Homo sapiens: one gene and its partner. The protein of the gene in region 1 interacts with the protein of each later gene in a pairwise test. Each region holds a gene or a part of one and is shown on either strand. Other genes may lie near its edges. The genes, in order: NECAB1 and PAX4.

Region 1 (4,436 bases):
TAAAACCTTTTAGTGACAAAATCCTAATATGTGGAAAAAAGCATATGCATAAAGGAATAATATTGTGAAAATGAATCTGTTATGATAAAGAAAAAATAAAGTGGAAACTTTTAGAGTATTACTTCATAGGGCAGATTTTGTAAACTGTCGTATACTGTAAAGGGTTAAATCAGCGTTTTGTGATTTTTAAGTAACTGTGAGTGAAGTTTATTCTTCAACAATGTCTACTCCATCCCCAACCCAACTCACAGCCCTATGACTACTATCTTTGCATTAGTTAAAAAGTTAGTATATAGGCATCAAACAACCTTGGCTGTAACCTATAGAATCTCTATCCACGTATCAGGTTATAGACTGGTTTTTCAAAAGTGAACAATCCTGTGATAAGTTGGAGTACCATTTAGTAATACAGCAACATTGTGTCATTTATTAGCATCATAATTCTTTGTTATGTAAGTTAAATATATCAAGAAAGAAGAGACTGTTTGGAAAAATGTGGTTCAAGTTTTATGCTATATAGTTTTGGTATGCGATACAGACAGCTAACTTTTCTTATGAAAAATACATATTTGCATGTAAACAATGATTTCAAAATACTTGAAAAATAAAATTTTAACCCAAATGAATAACTAAGAAATATAAAACAAGCACAAAATCTTAGGGAAGTCATAAAATAGTAGTGAAAGTATTAGACAGAAGACATCTGTTTTCGAATTTCAACACTAGAATGACTAAAACTATCTACCTATAGAACTATCTGTAGATAGTATACTATCTACACTCTGCTCAACAAGCTCAGAAATTAAATATTTTTAATAATAAAAATCTGTTCTGGTTATAAACCTTGCTAATGAAAATACAATACATATAAAAATGTATAGCCATGTTATTTTCTAGTATAAATTCCTTTGAAACTATAAGTCTTTGAGGAAAATTATAAGGTAAAATTTTCCTGTTTTTCCCCCTTTGAAAAACTCAGGAAAAAAGGAAGATTGAACTAATAAAATTTTATTTCTTAAATATAAATTTGACCTAAAATATTTTCTCAAACTAATTCATGAAACAGCAACTTTTACCAATACCTTTGTATACTCTCAGTTCTCATTCAGTATAAATAAAATTTTAAAATCCTTTCATAGTTCTATTAGAAATAAGTAGTAAATTTTGATATATTGTACATACACACGTGTGTGTGTGTGTGTGTGTGTGTGTGTGTGTGTGTGTGTGTATTTGTGTGCCTCTGGTCAACTCTAAGGATGACAGACACTGTGTAACAACACCTGGGTCAACTCTTTTAATTTATATACAAAGCAAAGAACAACATTAATGGAGATGCACAATGATTATTCAAACAAGCTATATATATGTACAAAGGCAAACAGACACATAACAGTCTCTGCAGACTGATTGTATATAGTAAGAAAAGATCAAAAGACTTTAAAACCTAAATGACTTTTGACATACAAACTCTTCTTGAGAATGTTTGTTGTAAATGGTTTCAAAAATACAAATTATAGCCAATCAAAACATTGCTTTGGTTGGTGCATTTAAGTATCCAACTCAAAAAGCATATCAAATATTTTGGGTACTAGGCAGTTTCCAAAGTAGCATGGTAGTATTACTTGTTAAAAGGGTTCTGTTTTCATTAACAGTACTAAGTGGAAGGGATCTGCAGATTCCAAACTGGAATAAGCTCTATCATATTCTGAAACAAGAATTAGAATGACTTGAGAACGGGCAAATAACAAAGCAAACCAATATAATTATATGGTCATTCTGACCCCAGCTCTTATACAAATTATACATGTATTTTTGTGTATGTTTGTGAGAGTTGTATGTATGTGAATGTGTGTGAGTGTGTATTCACATACACATATATACTGGAACCTATAGTAGAAAAGGAAACTAGTAGGGCCAAAAAAAAAAAGAAAAAGAAAAAGAAAAAAGAAAAAAAAAGAAAAAACTGGGACCTAAGTATAAATATCTCATCCTAAAGTAAACAATAAGTTTATAGTTAACGAAGATTTTTTTCTATTTAAAACCCCATTTTCCTAAAGAACAAAGTAGTAAAATAAAAAAAAATTTAAAAAATTAAAAAATAAAAAAAAGAGGTCACTAAAAGACCAAGATGGGAAACGTAACATGGAATACAAGCTTGAATCTGGGAAACAAGCTCAAAAAACAGTGAAAAAAAAAGTACTGGTTTAGGAGTTCAAAATTCAGTGAAACAAACTTTTTGCCAATAGACCTAGGGATCTAAGAAATAGAATTAGGGAGAGTTTACACTTACTTACCTATATATCAGCAGATTTTTCTGGAAGAAACCCTTTTTTTTTTTTTTTTTAAACAGTAACATCCAGAGTGACAAATTGCAGGAGATTTAATGTATAAAATTTCTAGGAATTAAAAGCTTAAACCCAAAAATTGTTCATCCATATATAAGAAATTATCGAATTAAAACTTAATGTATGTCAATTATTTTCAAATGTCTAAATTCCTTTGGAAATAAAAATATCAGTTTTACTTTGAAATTGCTCAACTTCTGCTATTCATATGGTCTGATTAGTGACATAAGTAGCAGCCGTTTTTCAACTTCAGTTTCATTCACTACCATTGTTTCCAAATTATCAATCTCTGCTAGTAATTATGAATTTAAGACCATATTATTATCAAAAACCTAGAGACCAATCATATATCTGAAAAGAAATACCCATTAAAAATTCTGCCTCCTGTTTATTGAGAACTATGCATTGAACATTCTGAATCATTCTAAGCCTCTGGAGAGACTGTAATGATCCATTCATGAGCTGGTATGAAATCAGTGGGAAGCAGAACAACAGAAGGAACTTTAAAAGCAACAAGCAATTATGTACCATATATACACTGTAGCAAATATTTTATATTTGAGAGTCTTTACAGCTTACATTTCCATTCCATTATTACAAGTGATGAAAAACAAAAAATTGCAAGTAGTATGCAAATTATAAATATACAGTCTTCCCACTTCACTAACCAAATTCCTACTTTCCAGTGTTACTTCCCAATTTATGCAGGAAACCTCCTGCAAAGCTGAAACTGATTAGAAAATTCTTTATATTTTAAAATAGCTCTTTCTCATTTTTAGAGAAGTCAAATAGCCAACCATCAAAATTAAGAATAAATTGAATTGTCACAGTCCATTACAGTTATTGTTGCTAGATCCACCTCATTTGCAGATGTCCAAACTTAAATTCATCTGTTCTTAAAATGCTACTTAAAACTTTGGTTGTTTTCCTGTAATATAAAAGAAAAAGTTAATTTATCAATTGATTGAATACAGTTTTTACTAATTAGTTTATCAAACCAAATACTGTGAACGTACCAGGTGTTTACAGATTTAAATGCATGTTACCATAGAAACTATTAAAGTAACTAGAACTGTCAAATAACAAAACGGCTCATGTTTTTAAAATATATGTAACTCATTTTAAAATATATTAAATTGTATTCCAAACCTGTTCTTCTGTTTCTGTGGCACCTAGGTTTAAAATATGTATTAATGTGTAAATCACAAGTAAAATGAATTCTAATGTACAAGTTTGTTTTAAAAAGTGTATGTCAAGCTTTTATTTACACAATAAAATGTTATTAAAGATGGAAAGTCTACAAATGAAAAAGTGACTATAGTTTATATAGCACTGAAGTTTACATTTATTCTTACAGACCATGGATTACATATCCCAAAGATCTTTGAACCGGTGGGAAAGTTGAAACATCAAGTACATTTTTTCTTATTTAATATTTATGCATGAGAAGTATTATAAAAAATTTTAATTCCTGCTTTAATTAACTTTAAAAAGAATTGGCTAGAGATCTAAAGTTAGGGAGTTTAAGAAATATTAATATAAACTATGAACAACATAATGTTTTTTAAAAATTATAATTTGAGGAAAAAAATACTATGAATTCCAAAGAATTAGAATACCAAAAATGGAGATAGAAGGTAGTAGTGTTTATCTCCCATTCGAACTGTTCTCAGTATACCTATATTCTGAATCTCATTTCAGAAGAGTCCTAGCTGCCTTTACCTATATAAAGGTATTTACGAAAACTCTAATAGGAAGTTAAATTCCAGTCAAATGTAAGTAGAGACCACAAAGAATGGGAATCATTTACTAAAAGCATAATGAGAGAAAGGTATCATACTCAGTAATCTCATGCATTATTTTATTAATCCTAACAGCCAGAGATTATCATCCTTATCAGCAATTGCAAAACTTATCATCCTTATCAGCAATTCAATGAGGTTAAGTGACTTGTCCAAGTTCGAACTACCGGTACACAGAATGGAGCTACAATTTGAAGCCATGTCTGATGACAAAATCCATGTCCTTTCCAATGAATATCCTAAGAGATGCATGTATGTATTTATTATGTGTATTTATTTAGATGGAATT
Region 2 (4,524 bases), on another chromosome or scaffold:
ACCACTTTTCCCTCCCCCATCACCTCTGGGTCGAAAGCCTCTGTTTGTTCAGACCCAAGAGCGCGTCATAAAGGCGGAGGGAGAGGGTAGTTTATGGGGTAAATCGCTGCCACCACCATCTGCTAGGGCTTGTCCCTGCTCCCCCTGATACCCCTATCTCCACCCTCATGCAGCTGTCTATAGGAATAGCTGGTCAGGACATAAGCCTTGAGCCCCTAGACGCAGGGGCAGATCTAGCGGGGAGGGATGAGGCAGGAATGGGGGACTAGGAGCAGGGCTACCACAGGCCTTACTGGGGACCTCCTCCCACCCAAGCATGGCTAAGTAGAGTGACCAGCAGTCCCCAGCTGCCCCGGGGATGGAATGGGCTGTAAGGACACTTGGGCAAATGCTATCCTGCCCGAGGTCCTGAAATCACCCTCTGCAGTCTCCCCTGTACCCCAAGACCAGTCTGAGGATGCTGGAGGAGGGTGGAAGAGGAAGAGAGTATGTATCAGGGTAAAGTGGAAAACTCACTTATGTGATATTTGGCCTTTGAGAGCAAGAGTTCCCAACCCTAGGATCAAGCTGAATGCACAACAACCACTTTCACCCCCAAAACCTCAAAACATTTACCAATGACATACGTCTTCCATTCTCTGATTTCTGGGACTAGTCTTATTGCCCTACACCCTGCTTACTTCCAGTCTAACTTTTGCAATGGTTTCACAGACTCTGAGGTGTGGAATGGACCCAAAGACCATCTGCCCAAGACCCTGATGACTGGCAACAAAATTTACATGCACTAGAGGCTGTGTTTCACTTTCAGCATCCCACTCCACAGGCACCACCTGCCCAGCTACTGATACCTCTGACCTCGCCAATGACCCAGATAACCTGTGGTGTCTTTTGTGGAAACAGCAGTGCCATTACTAACTTAGAGTCTAAAAGCATCAAATCCCTAACAGAATGGAGCCTGCTAACATCTAAAGATGGAAGAAGGAAAATCCTGCTGCAAGCCTCCTTATAAACACCCACATGCATCTCTGACTATCCTGAGGCTCATTTCCACCACCACTACCATTGTCAGTGTTCTGAAGTCCAGGATCCTTCCATTTCCAGGCAAGAATTCACCCTTGGTGTCACCTCAGTCAAGGAGTCAATTGGAGAATTGGTTAGGACACTCTCTGGGGACAGCTGGTGCTAGGTGACACACACTCTTCACACTCTTCTCCATTCACTCTCATTATCTCAGAGTGCTAGGAGCCAACTCAGTCAGTATTTAGGCAACAGTCTGTATACTCATTTATCTTTTATAGCAACACACACGACTCAGGAGTTGACCCCAAAGCCCATGTATGTGCATTCTGGCTGGGAAGCTGTGTTGGTGGTTCGGGAAGGCATCTTTTTGCTTCTGTGTATTCAAAGCCTTAAGAACACAACCTGAAGTTCCCCATCTTCCATGCTCAGCATGCCCTTCAGGAGTACTGGTGCTTGTGTGGGTACACTTTTGCCTGTCTGAGAATGGCTCTGTCCCTGCTTCCGGGTGGTAGGTGGACACAAAGTGGGCTCTGAGGATTCCCCATGGAAGGACACAGTGGGTCATTGGCTGTGGTTTGCCCTGCCTCAGGGCTGGTGTCAGTCAGCCCATGCACACCTCCCTCCTCCTCTCTCCTCTGCTCATGGCCTGTGACATCACTGGCTACTCCCAGAAGGCTGCCCTCTGCTCTTGAGCACGGGCTCTCTATAGCTCTGGACCCCCTGGCAGGACTGAAGCAGGAGCAGAGTGGAGGCTGTTACCAAGACCAGATCATCACCACCCCTGGAGCCTGCAGGGGTCTCAGAAGCTGAGACCTCCCACTGAAGCTCCCACCTCATTTCCTCCACACAGGTAGCTCACCTGCAGGCTCATTGTCTGCCCTGCCTCTCATGCTGTCTCCATGCCTCTGTGTGGCCAAACCCAACTTCTCTCCCACTCTGCCTTTGCAGCTACAACCCTCCTGCCCCTTCCACCCCCTTTCCTGTTTTTCCATCTTGCAAGCACCAGTTATTTTTTCAGACATGTTAATATGAATGTTGGGAATGTGTGTTGTGGCTATTGGGAATGGGGTTTCTGTTTGTGAGTTGGGGCATAATGATTTAGGTTTGGAGATTATTTAGGTTTGGATACTGAACCTGCATCCCTACTGCTCTTTTGAATTCTGGTCACTTAGGAGAACTGAGTCCCATCAAGGATTTAGGGTTTGGCTGATATTTTGAGCTCCTTCACCCTGTCTTGGCACAGCCCTTTACAGTCCCTGCTTGATTCTCCTCTCTCCATTGTTTTTGTGGCAATTACACAAACATGAAACAGGGGTGGGAGCAGAGAAAGAGAGCCCAGGATTAGGAGCCAGAAATTGTAGCTTCTGATGAGGAACTGGCTTCTAAACCTTGAATTTTACTCTCTGGACAGCCCCTGACTTGTGGCAATGCCAATCTGTGCCTCAGTTTTCTCTTTGGAAAACCTCTGCCTTCTTTCCCGACTTTTTGGAAAGATGAGAATTTGAAGGGGTCTGTGCCTCTACCTACCTAGAAACAAGTGAGTAAAAGCCAATTTAGCGACTGAACTTAATAAGTAGACTCTGGATTCCAAACTCTTTGTAATTCTTTGTTTCACTGGTGCTAGTCTCTTTTCTCCAGTTGCTCTGTAATGTGTTGGAGAGCAAAGACTTTACCCTTTTCTGTTTACTGCCTTCATCCTGAACAACCAGCAATGTGCTCATGCTTAATATCTTATTCAGCATACAACTGCAGATGAATTAACTAAGCCCAGATGGCACGCTTATTATAAGAAAGTTCTGTGCATAAGCTGTTCCTTGGGGTGATCTCCAGCACTACCAGGGTTCCAGGCATGAAAGGAGGCATCTTCAACTCCCATTGATTACTAATGAAAGTAGAAGAGGTATGGTGGCCTGTGGGACCTGTGTCCCTTGCTGCTCAGAGACTCGCTTGGGCTCATGACGGTTTCTATGTTGCTCAGCGGACAGTCTTCTCCTGCTTCTCATTCCCTTCAATATGCCTTTGATAAATGTTAGTTGAATGAATGAGTGTCTGATACCAGAAACATCGTCTCTGAAATTGAAGCTTCACTGTGAGATCTAGAACTCTTCAGAGAATGAACAGAATGAACAATCTCAGCAGGTTAGAGATGCTAAGAGATGCGTCTCCTAGGAGAAGCCGGCTCTTCAGGCGTGTTCATCTCTATGCCCAGTGTGTAGGACCAGAGCCTCAATGCCTGGTGGGTTAGAGCTGAGTCCCAGTTTCCCTAGAGCTTCCTGGAGAGTATAAAAAAACAGGAGCAAGCCTTTCTGAAGTGCAGCATTTGGGTGGCAGTTTGGAGAGCCCAACCGAGGACTGCCTAATAGTGAAGGTGGACCCCTGAACTTGAGGACCCCAGAATCTCTGGCTCGGGTGTGTCTTCCAGGGCTGAGAAGGCTTAGGAGCAGCTGGAGACAACAGCTGTCCATTTGGAAAGGGGAAAGCTTGAGCATTTGAAAGCATTATCCCTTTCTACCTCCCCAAACTTTTCTAATGAATGTGTAGGAAAGGAGAACCCTCTCAATCCTCCCAGCCCCTTATCAGGACTTCAAGAAAGATCCAGTCCTCAGCCAACCTGCAGTGTTTTAGTTTTTATCACACAAAGGTTTAAATAAAAGGAATTAGAATTTTCTGATTTTAGCCAACCCACTGGCAAATTTTAGGAACCTGACCCTCTATCACAAAACACTACCTCCCAGGACCATTTCAAGCAAAAGACCTCACCCAAATAACCCCCCATTATTGCAGAGCCAGCCCCCAAGCTGGAAAAGGAGCTCCTAGAAGGAACTTCCCTTCCCAGCCTTCCCAGCTGGAGTCTCATCCTTCTGAGGAGGGTCAGCCTGGAGCATGCATCAGGACGGTGAGGAGCCTGGGGGAAGTGGGAAGACAGGGAGGACAACAGAGACAGGGGAAGACCTCAGGGCTTTGCTTCCATCAACTGTTTCATCTGCTATTGGCCAATGTTCTGGGGAAGCTTTTTCCAGTCCCTCCCTTCCTGCCCTGTCCTGCTTCCCTTAGATCAGGAGAGTTGGCGGGTATGGGCAAGGAACAAAGACTCACCCGTGAGCCAGCTCTCAAAGAAAGCAGCTTGCGTTGACAGCCTGGGGGCAGCAAGGATGCAGTCTCCCAGGAGAGGATGCACTCGGTGGTGGGAAGCCAGGCTGGAGGGGCCTGAGTGACCCTCTCCACAGGCGGGCAGGGCAGTGGGAGAGGTGGTGTGTGGATACCTCTGTCTCACGCCCAGGGATCAGCAGCATGAACCAGCTTGGGGGGCTCTTTGTGAATGGCCGGCCCCTGCCTCTGGATACCCGGCAGCAGATTGTGCGGCTAGCAGTCAGTGGAATGCGGCCCTGTGACATCTCACGGATCCTTAAGGTAATGGGCCAGCACCTTTACCCAGTGATGGGGACAGGAAGCAGGGAGAAAGGGCTCCTCTGAAGGCAAGAGCCTGGGGCTGTTGCAGGCTCT

The links.
Region 2: the proteins of NECAB1 (region 1) and PAX4 interact in a two-hybrid assay, tested with the Homo sapiens proteins (one large-scale study listed by BioGRID).

The regions. Positions count from the first base shown.
Region 1 is NC_000008.11:90,955,758-90,960,193, forward strand, and holds the end of NECAB1 (N-terminal EF-hand calcium-binding protein 1), read left to right. Parts: 3' UTR 1-3,249; coding exon of another isoform or gene 3,250-3,273; 3' UTR 3,274-3,636; downstream 3,637-4,436. Other genes in the region: uncharacterized protein C8orf88, read right to left, coding at 3,250-3,273.
Region 2 is NC_000007.14:127,615,308-127,619,831, reverse strand, and holds the start of PAX4 (paired box protein Pax-4), read left to right. Parts: upstream 1-1,689; 5' UTR 1,690-1,870; intron 1,871-2,431; 5' UTR 2,432-2,557; intron 2,558-3,804; 5' UTR 3,805-3,903; coding exon 3,904-3,916; intron 3,917-4,300; coding exon 4,301-4,431; intron 4,432-4,524.